Linked DNA regions of Homo sapiens: regions 2 and 3 are each linked to region 1. The links come from fine-mapping of genetic effects on gene expression. A gene starts in region 1. Each other region holds a variant in brackets. All regions are shown on one strand. Distances are from middle to middle. Region 1 holds the start of LTO1 (LTO1 maturation factor of ABCE1). Region 2 overlaps CCND1 (cyclin D1). Region 3 has its middle 72 kb from the start of LINC01488.

The links. PIP is the estimated chance that this variant, and not a neighbour inherited with it, causes the effect.
Region 2: its variant is the best candidate, but not a certain one, in a credible set for the expression of LTO1 in whole blood (TOPMed, PIP 0.88).
Region 3: its variant is the best candidate, but not a certain one, in a credible set for the expression of LTO1 in whole blood (TOPMed, PIP 0.85).

The regions. Positions count from the first base shown.
Region 1 is chr11:69,672,735-69,679,665 of GRCh38, forward strand. It overlaps LTO1 (LTO1 maturation factor of ABCE1), which reads right to left and starts at 2,619. Exons shown (of 5, transcript NM_153451.3): 1 at 2,456-2,619; 2 at 482-587. The coding sequence starts at 2,505. RefSeq lists a silencer at 2,201-2,290 and enhancers at 2,411-2,911, 2,781-2,980.
Region 2 is chr11:69,650,039-69,656,969 of GRCh38, forward strand. It overlaps CCND1 (cyclin D1), which reads left to right. Exons shown (of 5, transcript NM_053056.3): 5 at 1,080-4,436. The coding sequence ends at 1,244. Among named protein-coding and RNA genes, the nearest start is that of CCND1, 12 kb to the left of the region's middle. RefSeq lists an enhancer at 4,892-5,829. The variant G/T (reference allele first, on the strand shown) is at 3,214.
Region 3 is chr11:69,550,500-69,557,430 of GRCh38, forward strand. No RefSeq gene overlaps it. Among named protein-coding and RNA genes, the nearest start is that of LINC01488, 72 kb to the left of the region's middle. RefSeq lists enhancers at 1,779-1,923, 5,245-5,389, 6,303-6,447 and cis regulatory regions at 1,851, 5,317, 6,375. The variant G/A (reference allele first, on the strand shown) is at 3,833.

The DNA.
Region 1 (6,931 bases):
GTACTAAGAATATTTCTCCAGCAACAGTCCATCTAGTCCATTAACTCCCATGCAAAGGCACTGTGATTTTTTTTGTTTATTTTTTGGAGATGGAGTTTCATCCTGTCGCCCAGGCTGCAGTGCAATGGCACGGTCCCGGCTTACCACAACCTCTGCCTCCCAGGTTCAAGCGAGTCTCATACCTCAGCCTCCCAAGTGGCTGGGATTACAGGCATGCACCACCATGCCCAGCTAATTCAGTATTTTTAGTAGAGACAGGGTTTCACCATGTTGGTCAGGCTGGTCTCCAACTCCTGACCTCAAGGCGATCCACCCACCTCAGACTCCCAAAGTGCTGGGATTACAGGTGTGAGTCACCGCGCCCATCCGGCACTGTGATTTTAAAAGGCCTGACAATTCTTACTCCATCACACTGAATATCGAAATAAATTATAAATTGTAAATGAAGAGGCTTCATCTCCAGATGGGGGTTCCCACTTACCTCAGACCCGATTTTGGCTCCATGCAGCGTGCCATGCTGCCTTCCCTCCATCACACCCAAACTACTGCCTTCTTCATAGCCTTCCCGATACCCTTCCCCATGAAACCTGTGAAGAAGAAGCATGCTTCATCAAATCAACAGGAGAAAGAATACTTTCTCCAGAAAAACTTCTCTCTCTTGTATTACCCGGACCCAGTAAGACAAACCAGAGTAAAGGAGGAAAAGCCTAAAATTCAAGTCAGAAGACACAGATTCCAGTCCCAGATCTACCACTTCCTATTTGCCTCTGGAAGTCACTGTACCTCTTGTAGCCCAGTTTCTTCATCTACAACAAAGGGCTAAATTAGGGATTCCCAAACCTGATAGGGTACTAGAAACACACAAGGAAAATTCAAAGATATTAACTCAAAAGCCTCACCCCCAGAGATTCAGTACGTCTGGAGCAAGGCCCTGGAATCTACTTTTCTTTCTTCCTTTTTTTTTTTTTTTTTTTTGAGACAGGGTCTCTGTTGCCCTGCCTGGAGTGCAGTGGTATGATCACAGCTCACTATAGCCTCAAACTCCTGGGCTCAAGCGATCCTCCAGCTTTGGCCGCTCCAAGTGTTGGGATTACAAGTGAGGGCCACCGCACCTGGCCTGCAATCCACTTTTCTTTTCTTGAGATGGAGTCTCGCTTTGTCGCCCAGGCTGGAGTGCAGTGGTGCGATCTCGGCTCACTGCAAGCTCTGCTTCCCGGGTTCACGCTCTCCTGCCTCAGCCTCCCAAGTAGCTGAGACTACAGGCGCCCACCACCACATCCGGCTAATTTTTTGTATTTTTAGTAGAGACGGGGTTTCACCATGTTAGCTAGGATGGTCTGGATCTCCTGACCTCGTGATCCGCCCGCCTCGGCCTCCCAAAGTGCTGGGATTACAGGCGTCAGCCACCGCATCTGGCCCGGAATCTACTTTTCAAAGTCTCCTAGATAAGTCTGGTTTGCAGCCAGAGTTAGGGGGCCAAAGTTCTGTGAGTGTTCAAGTAGCACTAGCCCAAGTCAACCGCTTCCAAAAAACTGCAACATACACAGGGTTTGACATCACATGGGTAGGGCAACAGAGAGAAATGGCATCAGATCACCACAAAATGTTCTCCGACTGGTACCCGGAGTAGCACTGACCCTGAGGCCCAACAGTGGAACTGCCACTATCTTAACCTGCAGTCACCAAACATGCAAGGAGTGGGCTGCAGCGCCCCATGAAGCAGGGTGCATAGCTCCCCACTTAATAGTTGTGTGACCCTGGAAAGTGACTGTGCCTCCTAGTCTGTAAATTCCGAAGAATAATAGGATCCACTTACTAAGTAGGGCTGAAGTAGATAACCAGGGTGGAACGTTTAGCTCAGTGTCTGACTCACAGCGCGAGCTAAATAAACGTCAGCGCCTGACTGCTAAATGTTCGGCCGCTTTCTTAACTAACATCTATGGACGCGTCCTCTGGGCCGGGCACTGGAAGTCAGCCAGGAGGCAACTCACAGCTCCCCCACTGTCGCAGCACGAGGGGCTCCCCAGGGGCTCTGGAGGGAAAAGGGGTGTGGTCGGGTACATCTATCAGCACATCCATGAATACTGCCGTATGTCCTATGATTAAGGAACCAGAAAAAAAGGCAGCTCCCAGATGGCAAAGGTCTGTCCTCCCAGAGGACGAGGCGGCCTCGGAGGAGGGGAACCACCAGGCTGAGCAGATGTTTGGGGCAGCCCTGACAGGGAAGGCGGGTCTGGAAGAGCAGCTGGGCACGTGCCCCGCCGGAGCGGGCCAGGAGAAGAGGACCAGAGCATCAGGCCCACACTTGTCCCTGCGTCCACGGCCACCAGGCGCTCCCCAATGCGCACGCCCAAGGGACGCCAGGCTCCAGCAGCCGCCCTGGGCCGCAGCCGGCGGCGAAGCCGCTGGGAGACGACCAGACAGGGCGGGGTGCGGGCCCGGCCTCACCACCCACCTCTCATCCGCCATCACGATGGCATCGAATATGTCCTGACTGCCAGCCATAGCGGCAAGCAGCCCGCCCTTGGCCCCCGGGTTTCTGCAGCCCCGCGGTGCCGTAGCAGACCCGGCAGCTTCAGGCACAAATGCTCCGCTTGGGAGGAGACGAGACCCACTTCCGGAAGCGGCGGCGCGGGGCAGGCCGGGTAAGAACGGCACGCGGGAGGGCCCAAAGCAGCCTGTACATGGCGCATGCGCGGCTGCAGCGGTGGGCGGGGCCGGCCTCGACTGAAGCCCCGCCCTGGGGTCCTTTCGCCCTGCCCAGCTCCAGCAAAGGGCCTGTCTGTCCGCGCTGGGAGCGTCCATTGGCCGCGCGCGTGGAGAGCCGACCTGTATTTTACCACTGCAGATAGAACCGAATTTCCCAAAGTGGCTCCGAAAGAACCAAGGAAGAAATGGGAAGTCATCAGCTGGCGCGGTGGCTCACGCCTGTCATCCCAGCACTTTGGGAGGCCGAGGCGCGCGGATCACCTGAGTTCGGGAGTTCGAGACCAGCCTGGCCAACATGGTGAAACCTCGTCTTTACTGAAAATACAAAAATTAGCCGGGCATGGTGGCAGGCGCCTGTAATCCCAGCTACTCGGGAGGCTGAGGCAGGAGAATCACTGGAAGCTGGGAGGCGGAGGTTGCAGTGAGCCGAGATCGCACCACTGCACTCCAGACTGGCGACAGAGCCAGACTCCGTCAAAAAAAAAAAAAAAAAGGGAAAAGAAATGGGAAGTCATCAAAGAACCGACGCCTCAGGAGGCTCCAGGCCAGGAGGCTCTGCATGTGGGATTTTGGGCAGAAATTTGTCGGTTTTAGTTCTCATATTTGTCATTTCCATGAGATGTGCTTTCTGAACACGATTTTTAAAAAGGGATTTCAAAGTCTAAGCGACAACGGAACTCAGATGAGAAACACCAGAAGCATTCCTAATAAAGTCAGTAGTAAAACCTCACGTGACCACTGAACATCTTTCTACCAGCCCTGGCCAATGCAGTAAAACATGAAGCAAGAAGTGGAAATACCAAAAAAAAAAAAAAAAAAAAAAAAAGGCAGAAATACTACTATTTGCAGATATGATGGCCCACGTGGAAAACCCAAATAGTCACCTAAGACGTTCTCAGAATCCATAATCGCAGCAAGTAGCTATGTGTATGATGAATAGGGAAAAAAACACTTTCTGTTATTCCAACAATAATTGGTAGTAACCTGAGCAGGGGTGGTGATGGGAAAATCGCCTTATGATAGTCATAATACATTTCTTAGAAATAAGAATTTCTAACAATTTGAGCAGGACCCATATAAGGAAAACTACAGCTCTACCATGATTGAGGATTGGGGAACTGAACAAGTGCAGTACCAAAGAAAATTCCATGAGATCTGGTAAAATGTGTCAAAATCCTAAACTTTTTCATCCGTATGAATAAACTAATAAAAATAACTAAGATGTTTTAGAAAAAAATGATTTTCATATCAGATATGAAAAGATAAAGTGTCAATATAAATATTGTGGTATGTTGGTTCAAGAAGTGGCAGACCAGTGAAATAAAGTAAATGGCCCAGACAATGGACTCTCATAGATGTAAAGCCTTCTCATGTGGTAAAAAGAAGAATTACAAATTAATTGGAGAAAGGAAATATTAACTAATAACTATAATGGAAAATTGGTTGTTTGGGAAAAGCTTGGTTCCATTTATGCCTCACACCATTCATCAAAATAATTCCAGATGAGTTAAAGAGTTAACTTAAAAAAATTAAGCACATTGGCTGGGCACGGTGGCTCACGCCTGTAATCCCAGCACTTTGGGAGGCCCAGGCAGGTGGATAACCAGAGTTAGGGAGTTCGAGACCAGCCTGACCAACATGGAGAAACCCCGTCTGTACTAAAACTACAAAATTAGCCTGGCGTGGTGGTGCATGCCTGTAAGCCCAGCTACTCGGGAGGCTGAGGCAGGAGAACCCAGGAGACAGAGGTTGCAGTGAGCCGAGATCACACCATTGCACCCCAGCCTGGGCAACAAGAGCAAAACTCCATCTCTAAATAAATAAATGAATAAAGCACATTTTGCCTGTAATCCCAGCACTTTGGGAGGCCGAGGCGGGCGGATCATGAGGTCAGGAGATCGAGACCATCCTGGCTAACATGGTGAAACCCCGTCTCTACCAAAAAATACAAAAAAAAAAAATTAGTGGGGCATGGTGACGTGTACCTGTAGTCCCAGCTACTTGGGAGGCTGAGGCAGGAGAATGGCATGAACCTGGGAAGTGGAGCTTGCAATGAGCCGAGATCGCGCTACTCTACTCCAGCCTGGGTGACAGAGCGAGACTCTATCTCAAAAAAAATAAAATAAAATAAAAATAAATAAATAAATAAATAAAATAAAGTACATTAAAAAATCTAGGTGGAACATTCAGACAAGTATGAAGATGCTCTTTTAACACATAAAAGCCATGAAGGAATTCTCAGCAAGCAAAACCAACATTTTACCATGTAAAAATGCAAACTTGTGTGTACCAAAAGTGATAAGAAACAAAATTTAAAGTTAAAGAACAATATGGGGAAATATTTGTCATAAATATTGTAACTAAAGAAATAATAATTCTGGTAAAGAGTTTATTTAAATACATGTATTTATTTAAATAAATACATCCTAACGGGGAAAAAAAAGGACTTGAAACATTATTCACAGAAAGAGCAACAGCTGGCCAATCAGGAAAAGCAGACGCAGCCTCACTAGTAACCAAAGCAATGCTGAGAAAGAATAATGAGATGCATTTTTTATCTTTTAAAATAGCTTAAGTTCTTTTTCTCCTTTTTTAGAATTAAAAGATACTCTTAATGAGCACAAGTGCATACATTGAAGACACCTCTTGGTCAGGCAGTTCAAAAACATAGGAAGGGCATTATATATATATATATTTTGTTTGTTTGTTTGTTTGTTTGTTTGTTTGTTTTTACTAGCTAGGCGTGGTGGGTCACGCCTGTAATCCCAGCACTTTGGGAAGTCAAGGTGGGTGGATCACCTGAGGTCACCAGTTCCAGATCAGCCTGGCCAAACAGTGAAACTTCGTCTCTACTAAAAACAAAAATTAGCCGGGTGTGGTGGCACGCTCCTGTAGTCCCAGCTATTCTAGAGGCTGAGGCAGGAGAATTGCTTGAACCTGGGAGGTGGAGGTTGCAGTGAGCCGAGATTGTGCCACTGCACTCCAGACTGGGCGACAGAATGAGACTCTGCCTCAAAAATAGAATAAAAAAGTTTTTTTTTGCCCCTGGACCTAGTCATTTCACTTCTAAGACTTCATCTCTAGGAAATAATCAAAGACAAGTCAAAATATTATGTACAGTGTTGTTCAGTGCAACACGATTTGTAAAAGGCAAGGCAAGGAAAGCAGCTACATTGACAAAATGGTGGAATTATGACATGTATTGTAGGCTATTCATGTTGAAGACTCCTAAGCAACCATTACAAATAATATTTCAACAAAAGTAACATCATGGAAAATGCCCATGATATTTCAAGAAAAAGAAAAAAAAATCCTCTATGTGAGGCTGCAGTGAGCTATGACCATACCACTCCACTGCAGCCAGGCCAGGGCAACAGAGTGAAATCTCATCTCAAAAACATAAAAAGAAAGAAAAAGAAAAAGAAAAAAAAACACTCTACATATACTCGAATTGCAATCACACTAAACACTATTTCAAAAGAATGAGAGTAGCCAGGTGAGGTGACTCACACGTATAATCCAACACTTTGGGAGGCCAAGGTGGAAAGATTGCTTGAACCCAGAGTTCAAGACCAAGCTAGGTAACATAGTGAGACTTCATCTCTACAAAAAAATAGAAAAAATTAGCCAGGCACGGTAGTGTGCTCCTGTAGTCCCAGCTACTTGGGAGGCTAAGGCGAGAGGATTGCTTGTTCTCAGGAAATTGAGGCTGCAGTAAACCGTGATCGTGCCACTGCACTCCAGCCTGGGCAACAGAACGAGACCCTATCTCAAACAAAACAAACAAACAAACAAACAAACAAAAAACCAGAAAAGAAAAAAGGAAGAGAAAAAAGAGTGAAAGCAAGTACAGCAAAATGTTCATAGAGAATATAGCTAGATTTTGGAATGACAGTGATTTTTTTAATGTCCTCATTTATATTTTTTGGAACATCTCATGTTTGTTTGCACAATGAACATAAGTTATGTTATAAGCATAAAAAAATGTTTTTGGTGGATGAAATTAAATAGACTTCGTATTATTTTGTTCTGAAGATGTCTTTAATTTTTAGGTTTTTTAAATAAGCAAATGAAATCACACAACACTTGGAATATAGGAAAAAGGGAAAGACAGCAAGCCAAAAAAAACAGTTCACCCTGTCCACCAACTGATTTTTGCTAATTTTATTATTTTTCCCTTGAATTTTCATATAAACATAATTTAATATATAAACAATGTAAT
Region 2 (6,931 bases), 23 kb before region 1:
CCACCTAAAAGTCGTTCTGGCCTGGGTCATCGCCTGTCGTGCTATGCCTTTGTCCAGCCCCTTCTGGTTGGGAGTTAAGTGGCACCTGTGCGGCACGTGGTGGGGCTGTGGCCCAGCCCTGCTCCTTGTGGAAGGTCTGTTTCCTGGGCTGCCTAGAGACTTGGCTTGAAGCCCTAGCGTGGCTTCCTGGCAGTTGGGACACACACAGCCCCAACACATGGAGCCGGTTCTCCATCCAGAAGCCCCCGGGCAGTAAGCAGCCACTTCAGGCTGCGTGGGACTTGCCCGTGGTGGAGCCTAGGAGAGGCCCCTGGCTGGGCGTGGCGTTCCAGATTTCACGGCTGCTCTTTCCCACTGACAGTGTGGTGTGGACGCTGCCAAGGGAGTCTGGAGCCCCAGAGGGTGGAGGTGCAGGACTTCCAGGAGCGTCCGTCGCACTCCACCCGAGGGCGAGCACCTCAGTGGCCGCAGTGGGTGGATGCATGCTGTGCCAGGCTGATGGCTGGCCCCGGGGCACAGGCCTGAGCGGGAGAGGATGGAGGGGAGGGATCAATGGTCCAGGTCCCCCTGGCCACCCAGCATTCATCCTCAGTCATGCACGGCCCAAGGCTTCGACAGCCATTGATCATGGAAGGCCAGGTTCACCTCAAGGGCTGCCACATGGAGAGGTTAAGTCTGAAAAGGCTGAAAAGGCAGGGTTCAAAGGGCCTCCTGTCCAGATCAGATGGCACTGAATTCCCCAGGGAGCTGGCACGGCCAGTGGGAACAGGCGGTGAAGGCGCTGTTGGACATGGGGACGGGCAGGGGGTGTGCAGGGTGGGCGGGCAAGCATCTGGTGTCTTGTGGCTCCAGAGACCAGGTGGGAGGTGGAGGCATTTGGTCCTGAGTGTCCTGACAGGTGATGGCAGCTCCCACATCTCGCTCAGGTTCAGAGGAGGCAGCATGGGCCGAGGGACAGTTTTTGGCTTAGTCTTGCTCTTATAAAGGCTTCCGGGTCATGGCACCTGGGAAGGGGCCCTCGCTGCAGGCCCCTTCTAAGGACCCCCTCTTCCCACCTCTCCCCACCCTCTCTCTCTCAGGACTGCCTCCGGGCCTGCCAGGAGCAGATCGAAGCCCTGCTGGAGTCAAGCCTGCGCCAGGCCCAGCAGAACATGGACCCCAAGGCCGCCGAGGAGGAGGAAGAGGAGGAGGAGGAGGTGGACCTGGCTTGCACACCCACCGACGTGCGGGACGTGGACATCTGAGGGCGCCAGGCAGGCGGGCGCCACCGCCACCCGCAGCGAGGGCGGAGCCGGCCCCAGGTGCTCCCCTGACAGTCCCTCCTCTCCGGAGCATTTTGATACCAGAAGGGAAAGCTTCATTCTCCTTGTTGTTGGTTGTTTTTTCCTTTGCTCTTTCCCCCTTCCATCTCTGACTTAAGCAAAAGAAAAAGATTACCCAAAAACTGTCTTTAAAAGAGAGAGAGAGAAAAAAAAAATAGTATTTGCATAACCCTGAGCGGTGGGGGAGGAGGGTTGTGCTACAGATGATAGAGGATTTTATACCCCAATAATCAACTCGTTTTTATATTAATGTACTTGTTTCTCTGTTGTAAGAATAGGCATTAACACAAAGGAGGCGTCTCGGGAGAGGATTAGGTTCCATCCTTTACGTGTTTAAAAAAAAGCATAAAAACATTTTAAAAACATAGAAAAATTCAGCAAACCATTTTTAAAGTAGAAGAGGGTTTTAGGTAGAAAAACATATTCTTGTGCTTTTCCTGATAAAGCACAGCTGTAGTGGGGTTCTAGGCATCTCTGTACTTTGCTTGCTCATATGCATGTAGTCACTTTATAAGTCATTGTATGTTATTATATTCCGTAGGTAGATGTGTAACCTCTTCACCTTATTCATGGCTGAAGTCACCTCTTGGTTACAGTAGCGTAGCGTGCCCGTGTGCATGTCCTTTGCGCCTGTGACCACCACCCCAACAAACCATCCAGTGACAAACCATCCAGTGGAGGTTTGTCGGGCACCAGCCAGCGTAGCAGGGTCGGGAAAGGCCACCTGTCCCACTCCTACGATACGCTACTATAAAGAGAAGACGAAATAGTGACATAATATATTCTATTTTTATACTCTTCCTATTTTTGTAGTGACCTGTTTATGAGATGCTGGTTTTCTACCCAACGGCCCTGCAGCCAGCTCACGTCCAGGTTCAACCCACAGCTACTTGGTTTGTGTTCTTCTTCATATTCTAAAACCATTCCATTTCCAAGCACTTTCAGTCCAATAGGTGTAGGAAATAGCGCTGTTTTTGTTGTGTGTGCAGGGAGGGCAGTTTTCTAATGGAATGGTTTGGGAATATCCATGTACTTGTTTGCAAGCAGGACTTTGAGGCAAGTGTGGGCCACTGTGGTGGCAGTGGAGGTGGGGTGTTTGGGAGGCTGCGTGCCAGTCAAGAAGAAAAAGGTTTGCATTCTCACATTGCCAGGATGATAAGTTCCTTTCCTTTTCTTTAAAGAAGTTGAAGTTTAGGAATCCTTTGGTGCCAACTGGTGTTTGAAAGTAGGGACCTCAGAGGTTTACCTAGAGAACAGGTGGTTTTTAAGGGTTATCTTAGATGTTTCACACCGGAAGGTTTTTAAACACTAAAATATATAATTTATAGTTAAGGCTAAAAAGTATATTTATTGCAGAGGATGTTCATAAGGCCAGTATGATTTATAAATGCAATCTCCCCTTGATTTAAACACACAGATACACACACACACACACACACACACAAACCTTCTGCCTTTGATGTTACAGATTTAATACAGTTTATTTTTAAAGATAGATCCTTTTATAGGTGAGAAAAAAACAATCTGGAAGAAAAAAACCACACAAAGACATTGATTCAGCCTGTTTGGCGTTTCCCAGAGTCATCTGATTGGACAGGCATGGGTGCAAGGAAAATTAGGGTACTCAACCTAAGTTCGGTTCCGATGAATTCTTATCCCCTGCCCCTTCCTTTAAAAAACTTAGTGACAAAATAGACAATTTGCACATCTTGGCTATGTAATTCTTGTAATTTTTATTTAGGAAGTGTTGAAGGGAGGTGGCAAGAGTGTGGAGGCTGACGTGTGAGGGAGGACAGGCGGGAGGAGGTGTGAGGAGGAGGCTCCCGAGGGGAAGGGGCGGTGCCCACACCGGGGACAGGCCGCAGCTCCATTTTCTTATTGCGCTGCTACC[G/T]TTGACTTCCAGGCACGGTTTGGAAATATTCACATCGCTTCTGTGTATCTCTTTCACATTGTTTGCTGCTATTGGAGGATCAGTTTTTTGTTTTACAATGTCATATACTGCCATGTACTAGTTTTAGTTTTCTCTTAGAACATTGTATTACAGATGCCTTTTTTGTAGTTTTTTTTTTTTTTATGTGATCAATTTTGACTTAATGTGATTACTGCTCTATTCCAAAAAGGTTGCTGTTTCACAATACCTCATGCTTCACTTAGCCATGGTGGACCCAGCGGGCAGGTTCTGCCTGCTTTGGCGGGCAGACACGCGGGCGCGATCCCACACAGGCTGGCGGGGGCCGGCCCCGAGGCCGCGTGCGTGAGAACCGCGCCGGTGTCCCCAGAGACCAGGCTGTGTCCCTCTTCTCTTCCCTGCGCCTGTGATGCTGGGCACTTCATCTGATCGGGGGCGTAGCATCATAGTAGTTTTTACAGCTGTGTTATTCTTTGCGTGTAGCTATGGAAGTTGCATAATTATTATTATTATTATTATAACAAGTGTGTCTTACGTGCCACCACGGCGTTGTACCTGTAGGACTCTCATTCGGGATGATTGGAATAGCTTCTGGAATTTGTTCAAGTTTTGGGTATGTTTAATCTGTTATGTACTAGTGTTCTGTTTGTTATTGTTTTGTTAATTACACCATAATGCTAATTTAAAGAGACTCCAAATCTCAATGAAGCCAGCTCACAGTGCTGTGTGCCCCGGTCACCTAGCAAGCTGCCGAACCAAAAGAATTTGCACCCCGCTGCGGGCCCACGTGGTTGGGGCCCTGCCCTGGCAGGGTCATCCTGTGCTCGGAGGCCATCTCGGGCACAGGCCCACCCCGCCCCACCCCTCCAGAACACGGCTCACGCTTACCTCAACCATCCTGGCTGCGGCGTCTGTCTGAACCACGCGGGGGCCTTGAGGGACGCTTTGTCTGTCGTGATGGGGCAAGGGCACAAGTCCTGGATGTTGTGTGTATCGAGAGGCCAAAGGCTGGTGGCAAGTGCACGGGGCACAGCGGAGTCTGTCCTGTGACGCGCAAGTCTGAGGGTCTGGGCGGCGGGCGGCTGGGTCTGTGCATTTCTGGTTGCACCGCGGCGCTTCCCAGCACCAACATGTAACCGGCATGTTTCCAGCAGAAGACAAAAAGACAAACATGAAAGTCTAGAAATAAAACTGGTAAAACCCCAGCGTGGTGCCTGCCTCTTTGCTTCCTGGGCTGGCCGTGAGCCAGGGACGCGTGTCCTGGTGCCCTAGAACCAGGGCAGGGTGGCAGGCTTGGCGGATGTGGGAGGCCGCAGCCTGTCCTGTGCGCTGTGGGAAGTTCAGCAGCATCCTGACCTCCATCCCCGGGATGACAGTCACGCCACCCGCCGTGACAACCAAGAATGTCTCCTGACACTGCCACATCCCCGGGGGTGGGGACAGAATCCAGCCAGGAGCAGGCACACCCCTCCCAACTGGGAGGAAGCCCTCAGCACAGGTGTGTGAGGTGGGAGGCGGTGTCCTGTCCCCGGGAGGCTCCAGAGAATAATTTGCAGGCTGCCTGGCTGGGTGAGCCCACCTCCAACCACGCGAGACAACAGCTCCGGCCTGGGTGACGTGAGCGGTGCCCATTGATGGGGAACATCTTCCCCCTCTTCCTTGCCCCACCAGTTTGTCTTCCCGGGTTATTTGCAGATAGGAAAATAAATAAAGCCGGCATTCGTTAACCCTCTTCTGGCGCAAACTGCTGTTTGCTCTGGATGAATCATGGTCCTTTGGCGACGCCAGGCTCCGGGAGAGCAAAGCACCGTGTCAGGGCCATGATCCGGGGTGGCCTTTCACTGGGATCGTGGGGACCTGGAGGCCGCCTTATAGGACACCCATGACGCCCACCTCTGGATTTCAGGTGCACGTGACTGGACTTAACTTCAAACCCCAGGGTGGAGGCAGGTAGTGGGAGTGCCCTGGGAAGGTGTCCTCGGACCTTGGTCACTGCTCCTGAACCCATCTGTGAGGCTGGTTTGTCCTCATCCCAAGCTAAGTGGAAGCTCAGGTCCCAAGCCACCGATGGGTGCTACTTGTCAGCTGCAGGTTGAATCTCCGTGGCCTTTATGAAGCACCTGCTGTCTACCCTTCCTGCCTTGTAGAGCACTCCTCCCAGGGCTCAACAGTGGGGCCGGGGTGGTCGGTGTGTTGGCTCCACAGGCGCCTGCCCTGGGAGGAAGGTGGGGTGTGGAGGGAAACGCTTGGCCCCTGTAGGTCTCCACCAGCCTCTCCCCTGAGGGTGGGGGCTCCGGGAGCCTTCCTCGAGGGAGTCCTATATTGAGTGGGTGGGGGAGCCTGCAAGGTGCCCCTGACAGGTCACATCAGAAAGAGCTCAAGGGACAGTCGGAGCCAGAGGTGACACTGGTGGCCACTCGGGTGGCTCACAAGGCCCAGCTCCTCCTTGCTCCTGGGCAAATTACTCTGAAGGCAGGGACCAGGTCTGCACCATTGCGGCTCTCCAGTTCCAGGCAATGGCCAGGTCCTGTGTCAGGGCTGGGGTCCTAGGGAAGCCATGTCCCCACCCCCGGCCTGCAGCTGGGTTTACATTCATCCCCCGAGAGCACATGGGTGTAGCAGGAGGCCTGTGCAGAGAGCTCCGACCATCGCACAGGGCACCTTTGGTTGTTTCACGGAGCAGGCAAGGGAGCCATCGGATCCTGTTAGGTTTGAGCAAGGATGTGGGGAAGAAGCTGGAGAGCCACTTTGCCATGCAGGGAGAGGAGCACATGGGTCTAGGGATCTACTTTAGTGTTTGGAAGGTTTTTTAAGATGAAAGAGGGATGTGTAGGCTGATAGGTCTGGCAGAGCCAAAAGGCAGCGACATGTCTACTGGGAGAGATGGAGCTGAGCGCGGGGCTCAGGCAGGGTGGCAGGGCAGGGCCGGGGCCCTGGGTGGGTCAGGTGGGTTCACAGCCAAGTGTGTAGAGAGGGCTTGGGCCCAGAGTGAAGCAGTTGCAAGCTCTCCCACAACCCATTCTCTCTGTCTCGGCATCTGTGGCATCCCGTGATGGGTGGGTCTGTACACACCCCACCCCTGGCTGTGCCACAATGGGGGTGTCTGTACACCCCTCACCCCTGGCTGTGCCACGATGGGGGGGTCTGTACACCCCCCATCCCTGGCTGTGCCACGATGGGGGGTTCTGTACATCCCCCAGTGATGGGTGGGTCTATACATCGTGGTTATGCCACGAGCTCCAAGGCTGTATCAGTCCGTTTTCACACTGCTAACAAAGACATACCCGAGACTGGGTAATTTATAAAGAAAAAGAGGTTTAATAGACTCACAGTTCTACGTAGCTGGGAGGCCTCACCATCACGGCGGAAGGCGAAAGGCCCGTCTTCCATGGCAGCAGGCAAGAGAGAATGAGACTCAAGTGAAAGGGGAAACCCCTATAAAACCATCAGATCTGCTGAGACTTGTTCACCACCATGGGAACAGTATAGGGGAAACTGCCCCATGATTCAATCACCTCCCACCGGGTCCCTCCCACAACACGTGGGAATTATGGGAGCTACAATTCAAGATGAGATTTGGGTGGGGACACAGCCAAACCATATCAAAGGCATCGTCTGGCCACTCTAGGCCCTTGTTCCCAACTCTCAAACTCCACTGACATCACCTCTGTGCCTGCAACCCCTCCTGGGATTCAGTGGA
Region 3 (6,931 bases), 120 kb before region 1:
CGGGGTTTCATCATGTTGGCCAGGCTGGTCTTGAACTCCTGGCCTCAGGCAACCCACCCACCTCAGCCTCCCAAAGTGCTGGGGTTACAGGCATAATCCAGCCAAATGGAGTGATTTTTTAAAAAGATTCCATATCACAAATTATCAGATGCAACACACACAATACTTATAAGGAAATGTAGAGTTCTAAATGATGAGTAATAAATCACATACAAGTCAGGTTTATCCCAGGAATACAAGCCTGATTTATACAAATATGTTAATTAGATTTAAATCTATTAATTAGATATAAAAATCTAATTAATGTAATTTACCACAATAACAGATTAAAAAAGCAAATTATATCTTAGTAAATGAAAAAGAAAGCATTCAATAAATGTCCATATCCAATCATGGTTTGAAAATTTTAGCAAAATAGGAATAGAAGGGAATTTCCTTCATCTGATAAAGAGTCTCTCCCAAAAATACCTACAATAACCATCATGCTTGGAGAAAAGCTAAAAGCATTCCTGTTAAGACCACAAAAGAGCCTCTCCCAAAAATACCTGCAATAACCATCATGCTTGGAGAAAAATTAAAAGCATTCCTGCTAAGACCACGTCCCAGACTCTTCTGTATAACACCAAACTGGAGTTGCTAACCTGTGCAGTAAGACATGAAAAGAAAATATAAAGGAAGAAAGACACAGAAAACTCTTCTTAGTTACAAATGAAAATACTGTCTACATAGAAACCTGAAAAGAACCTATGGAAAATTATCAATAAGACATTTAAATAAAGTGGGTGGGTACAAAACCAGCATATAAACCTCAATTGCATTTCTATAAAGCAGCAACAACTAGCAAACACAAGTCTTAAAAAGATGCCACTTACAACAGCAACATCAACAAACACAGGTATATGATGCATACATATATGTAAATAAACTGGGAATAAATCTAACAAAGATGTATCCAAATGGCGCTTTTTTTTTTTTTGACGGAGTCTCACTTTGTTGCCAAGCTGGAGTGCAGAGGCACAATCTTGGCTCACTGCAACCTCCGCCTCCTGGGTTCAAGTGATTCTCCTGGCTCAGCCTCCTGAGTAATTGGGATTACAGGAGTGCACCACCACGCCTGGCTAATTTTTGTGTTTTTAGTAGAGATGGGATTTCACCATGTTGGCCAGGATGATCTCAATCTCTTGACCTCATGATCCCCCCGTCTCAGCTTCCCAAAGTGCTGGGATTATAGGCATGAGCCACCACGCCCGGATGAGCATTTTTTTGATAAAAGACTCAGTATCTTAGAGGTATGGTTCTCCCCCAAATTGTATACAGATTCAGCACAGTTCCAGTACAAAAAGAAATCCTTCCACTCTTTGATGTATTTCAGTGCAGTTCCATCATTTTCACCATAGAGGGATTATCACTCACTTGCCCTGTGATCTTGGACAAGGTCTTGAGTTTTCTCAGCTGAGAAAATAAAAGGATGGGAACAGAAGATCCCTAACCCCCCTCCTGTGCTGAAAGCCTAAGATCCTTCAGGAGGAAGAGGCAGGTGAGGTACATCTGACACTTCGGCGTGGCTCCTGCTGAGGGCAATGAAATGATAAACCAGGCTGGGGTGGGTCTGAGACTCCACCCTATGACCTTGGCATCTAACAGGAGGTAAAATGGAAAGCAAATCATGACACGTCCCAAACATTATGTAATCATTGTAAATAGCTTTTAAAGGATTACATAGACATGGAAAATATTCACGACATGTTAAGTGGGAAAAAAATCACACACATCCTATAATTACAATTCTAAAGGCAAAGACAAGATCCAGGAGGCAAGGCCGCTCAAACTCTTAAGTTTCACTGTTTGATACTGTTGAGAAGCACAATAATGACCAATGAGCAGAAAGAGCATCAGTAAACGCTCCCACTTTCTAAGTCCTCTGGCAGGAAGTCTTTATTTGCTTCCCGGAGTTAGGACTGCGGCATCAGGGGTTTCAGGCCTAGGATTTGGGGTATGGGGTGTGTCAGGCCTAGGATTTGGGGCATCGTGGGTTTCAGGCCTAGGATTTAGGGCATCGGGGATTTCAGGCCTAGGATTTGGGGCATCGGGGATTTCAGGCCTAGGATTTGGGGCATCGGGGATTTCAGGCCTAGGATTTGGGGCATCGGGGATTTCAGGCCTAGGATTTGGGGTATCGGGGGTTTCAGGCCTAGGATTTGGGGTATCGGGTGTTTCAGGCCTAGGATTTGGGGCATCAGGGATTTCAGGCCTAGGATTTGGGGCATTGGGGATTTCAGGCCTAGGATTTGGGGTATCGGGGATTTCAGACCTAGGATTTGGGGTATCGGGTGTTTCAGGCCTAGGATTTGGGGCATCAGGGATTTCAGGCCTAGGATTCGGGGTATCAGGGGTTTCAGACCTAGGATTTGGGGCATCAGGGATTTCAGGCCTAGGATTTGGGGTATCGGGTGTTTCAGGCCTAGGATTTGGGGTATCGGGTGTTTCAGGCCTAGGATTTGCTTCCTGTCAAGGTACATGTGTCTGGGAGCTGGGGATGCTTCACCTTCGTGCCTGGCTCCTGGGAACATCACCAGATCCTGGTCTGTCTGTCTGGGACAGTGCACACTTTCCCAGCCCACAGGCGAAGTTGATGCTCCTGGGAGCACTTCCACTCCCCGACAAGTCTCTTCCTGTGTCGTGGTTGCTTACTTATCGTTGTCTCACCCTAGAAGGCAAGCGCCCAAGGCCAGGGCTGAGTTTTTCTTGTTCAGAGCTGTGTCCCCAGCATTCCTGTCCACAGATGTTTGTTGAATGACTGAATGAATGTATAGGAATCAGAAGCATTGGGAGGGAGCAAAGGCCAGAGTTTTGCTAGAAAGTCTGAGGGTGCTGGCCCTAGAAATCCCCAAGGTCCCTCCCTCATGTCCTACGTCGTGGCTACCCTTAAGTCTGACATGCCCTGGGCCATGGCTTCCAATGTCAGGAAGAGGCCAGCCAGGTCCCAGCCATGTCTCCGGCCTTGACCTTGGGCTAGTCCTCTGTATGCCAGGTCCAGACCCTCTGCTTAAGTCCAAGTAGGTGAAGGTGAAGTCAGTCTTTCCGCTACCTGGCTCCAGCCCTTGGCCAGGCCCAGCCCCAGGTAGACCTTCCCCAGACACCTCTTCCTCTGTCAAAGCTCTGGAGAAACTTGCTGGGGCTCTGCCACCAGGCCCCTCCCCACCACCAGGCCCTGCCCTCCCAGGGTCCACCCCCTGGGTCTTACTTTGAGGCCTCCCTGTTTCAGATGGTCCCCTGCTGTGAAGTCCTGTCTTGGCCAAAAAGGGTGCATGTGGCAGGGTGATTAAGCCGTGGGGCCTGGTTATGGATGTGGAGTGGGGGTGCCTGTGCTGGGGCCGGAACACAGCAGCCACGTTCCTCCACACACGCACACAGCAGTAGCTGAGGTTGGCCCCATGCTGTCACGGGTGTTCTCACCTGTGCCTCTCCATAGTCGGGAAGCAGGAAAGTGAGGGTCATCCCGCAGTTCTAGATGAGGAGCCCAATGTGATGGGACTGCAAGTGGAGGAGCGGGACCTAGAGCCCAGGCTCCCGTTTCCCTGCCCAGGGCCCTCCCAGGGGCGCAACCTCTATGCACTGCTGTGTTGCTACCACCTCACTGCAGGAGCCAGAGGAGTGAGGACAGCCCCTTTGTGCCAACACTATGAATGAATGTATGGGAATCATAAGAAGATGACCAGGCCGTGTTGGAGCCAGGGGCCACATTGCCCCGCTTGAGTGTCCATCCACTGGCCCCTGACTCCTTTCCCCACCATGCCCCCAGCTGTTGCCAGCCCCACTCCCACCTGGGAAA[G/A]CAAGATTTGTGCAGGCCCCTCATTCCCCCGGCTCCTGCCTGGCCAGAGCCCACCACTGCACCACAGGATAAACATACATGCTGCGAAGGGAGACTTTGTGTGTGTCTCATGAGGCTCAACAACGGTGATGACCCCCGAGAAGATGCAATAAAAAGGACAACCTAGCCGGGTGCGGTGGCCCACGCCTGTAATCCCAGCACTTTGGGAGGCCGAGGTGGGCGGATCAAGAGGTCAGGAGATCGAGACCATCCTGGCTAACACGGTGAAACCCTGTCTCTACTAAAAATACAAAAAATTAGCTGGGTGTGGTGGTGGGCGCCTGTAGTCCCAGCTACTTGGGAGGCTGGGGCAGGAGAATGGCGTGAACCCGGGAGGTGGAGGTTGCAGTGAGCAGAGATAGCACCACTGCAGTCCGCCCTGGGCGAAAGAGCAAGACTCCGTCTCTCAAAAAAAAAAAAAAAAAAAAAAAAAAAAGACAACCTAATTTTGAAATTGGCAGAGGAATTGAACAGACATTTCTCCAAAGGAGCTATACAAATGGCCAAAGAGCCCATGAAAAGATGGCCAACAATGCTCCGTGCATCTTACAAACAAACCTTTTTAAAACCCAGCTAGGAAGTTCAGGGTCAAATCTGGAATTTCACACTGGCAACATTAGCTCAGGGAAGTGGTGGGGCAGCCCTCAGGCAGCTGAGCCATGCAGGAATGAGTATCCCGTGAAACATCAGCTGTCAAAGGCCCAGCCGACCCAGGAGGGTCACACTGCTTCCGCCTCAGTGCCGCCCTACCCTGGGCAGCTTCAGGATTCCAGAGGGGTCATGTGCTCTGAGGAGTGACCCTAAATGTGGCAGAGGGATCTAGTGACCGCCCAAAGCAAGCAGGACAGATCCCTGGAGTGCCAGCCCCTTTCCATGGGTGAAAGGTGATTCTGGTCTGCTGTTCTGGGTCCGAGGAAGGGCTGAAAAATGGGAGCAGAGGACCGTTCGAGCCCCTTCCCTGTCCCCAGATCCTCCTTCAGGGCTGCCAGTTGTTCTGTGCTCGTTCCATACATGCCTGCGGGGTCTGTCTCTGAATTTCCTGCATGACACGGTCAATCCAGGGGATAGTAAAAGGAAGGCAGAAGGTTTGCCCTGAATACTGGAAAAGAGTTCAAAAGTGTGTTAGTCTAGCATTTCTCTGGGGATATTTTGTAGATAGCCCACTTTTTTTTTTTTTTTTTTTTTGAGACAGAGTCTCGCTCTGTTGCTCAGGCTGGAGTGCAGTGGCGCGATCTCGGTTCACCACAACCTCCGCCTCCCAGGTTCAAGCAATTCTCCTGTCTCAGCCTCCGGAGTAACTGGGATTACAGGCGCCCGCCACCACGCTCAGCTAATTTTTGTATTTTAGTAGAGACAGGGTTTCACCATGTTGGCCAGGCTGGCCTGGAACTCCTGACCTCAAGCGATCCGCCCTCCTCGGCCTCCCAAAGTGCTGGGATTACAGGTGTGAGCCACTGCGCCCGGCCGATATCCCACTTTGCTGAAGGCTTTTGTGATCTAATATATTTGGAAAATACTAATGCCATTTTTTTTAAAGAAGGCTTTTTGTTGTTGTTGTTTCAAGTCTACACAGATCCCTGAATATGCAAAACTGCCCTGGATTTTTCCAAGAGAAAAATTTGCACCGTTTCACAAACTCACTTTTTGGAGGGACTTTGTCTCAGTGAACCATGAGGTATCAGTGTTCCATGAAATATACATGAGGGAATCCCAATCTAGCCCTGTTCCTTCATCTTGCAGACGGGGAGACCAAGGCAAGAGGGAGTGGTAGACAGCTGATTAAGGCCACACAGAGAACCAGGATGAGGGCCCTGGTCCCCAGGTGGCTGTCTCTCAGTTCCTTCCCCTGTTCTTACATCATTTGCTGGGCTAGTGCAAAATGAAAATGCAAGATCCCTTGTTCAAACCCTAGTAAGAATTTCAAGATGGTGATCGCAGGGCATTGCAGCAGGTGCAGGCCCGTCTAGGCACGCTGGGCTCGCCTGTGCAGCCGGCTCTGCTCCCTCAGCAGCCCAGAAGGGCCCTAGAGGACACTCCCCTGAGCACAAACCCAAACACCCCAGCTCTGCTCCTCACTAGCCCAGCCACCTGGGATACAGCACTCAGTCTCTCTGAGCCTCAGTTTCCACTTCCTGAAAGTGGGGTTGTAATGTCACCTGTTTCACTGCTGTGGAGGAGTGGTTGCACAACATTGCAAACAGAAATCAGGGCCGGGAATGGTGGCTCACACCTGGAATCCCAGCACTTTCGGAGGCTGAGGCGGGTGGATCACCTGAGGTCAGGAGTTCGAGACCAGCCTGGCCCACATGGCAAAACCAGTCTGTACTAAAAGTACAAAAAATAGCTGGGCATGGTGGTGCATGCCTGTAATTCCAGCTACTCAGGAGGCTGAGACAAGAGAATTTCTTGAACCCAGGAGGCGGAAGTTGCAGCGAGCTGAGATCACTGCGCTCCAGCCTGGGCGACAGAACAAGACTCTATCTCAAAAAAAAAAAAAAAAAAAGAGAGAGAAATCATTTCCAGTCTTATTCAAAATTTAAAAAGATCCAAGCCTGTGCCTAGAGGGGGCTAGGCCTGCCCACTTCTTGGACCCTAGAGCCTCGAAATCCCCTCCGCCTTTGGCCTGGGGTCTTTGTTCAGTTGTATTGCTATAAAGGAATACTTGAGGCTGGGTAATTGCTAAGAAAAGAGGTTCATTTGGCTCATGGTTCTGCAGGCTGTACAGGAATCATGGTGCTGGCATCTGCTTCTGGTGAGGCCTCAGGAAGCTTCCACTCACCTTGGCAGAAGGCAATGGGAAGCTGGCGAGAGAGGAAGGAAGAGAGAGCAGAGGGCCCAGATCTTCAACCATCAGTTCTCACACAAACTAATAGTGAGAACTCACTCATTACCAGGAGAACGCACCAAGTCATTCATGAAGGATTCGCCTCCATGACCCAAACAACTCCCACCAGGACCCTCCTCCAAGCTTGGGGGTCTAATTCCAACATGGGATTTGGAGAAGACATGGGAACTGTACCCAAAACATGGCAGCTGGATGCTTCTGAACACACTGACGGT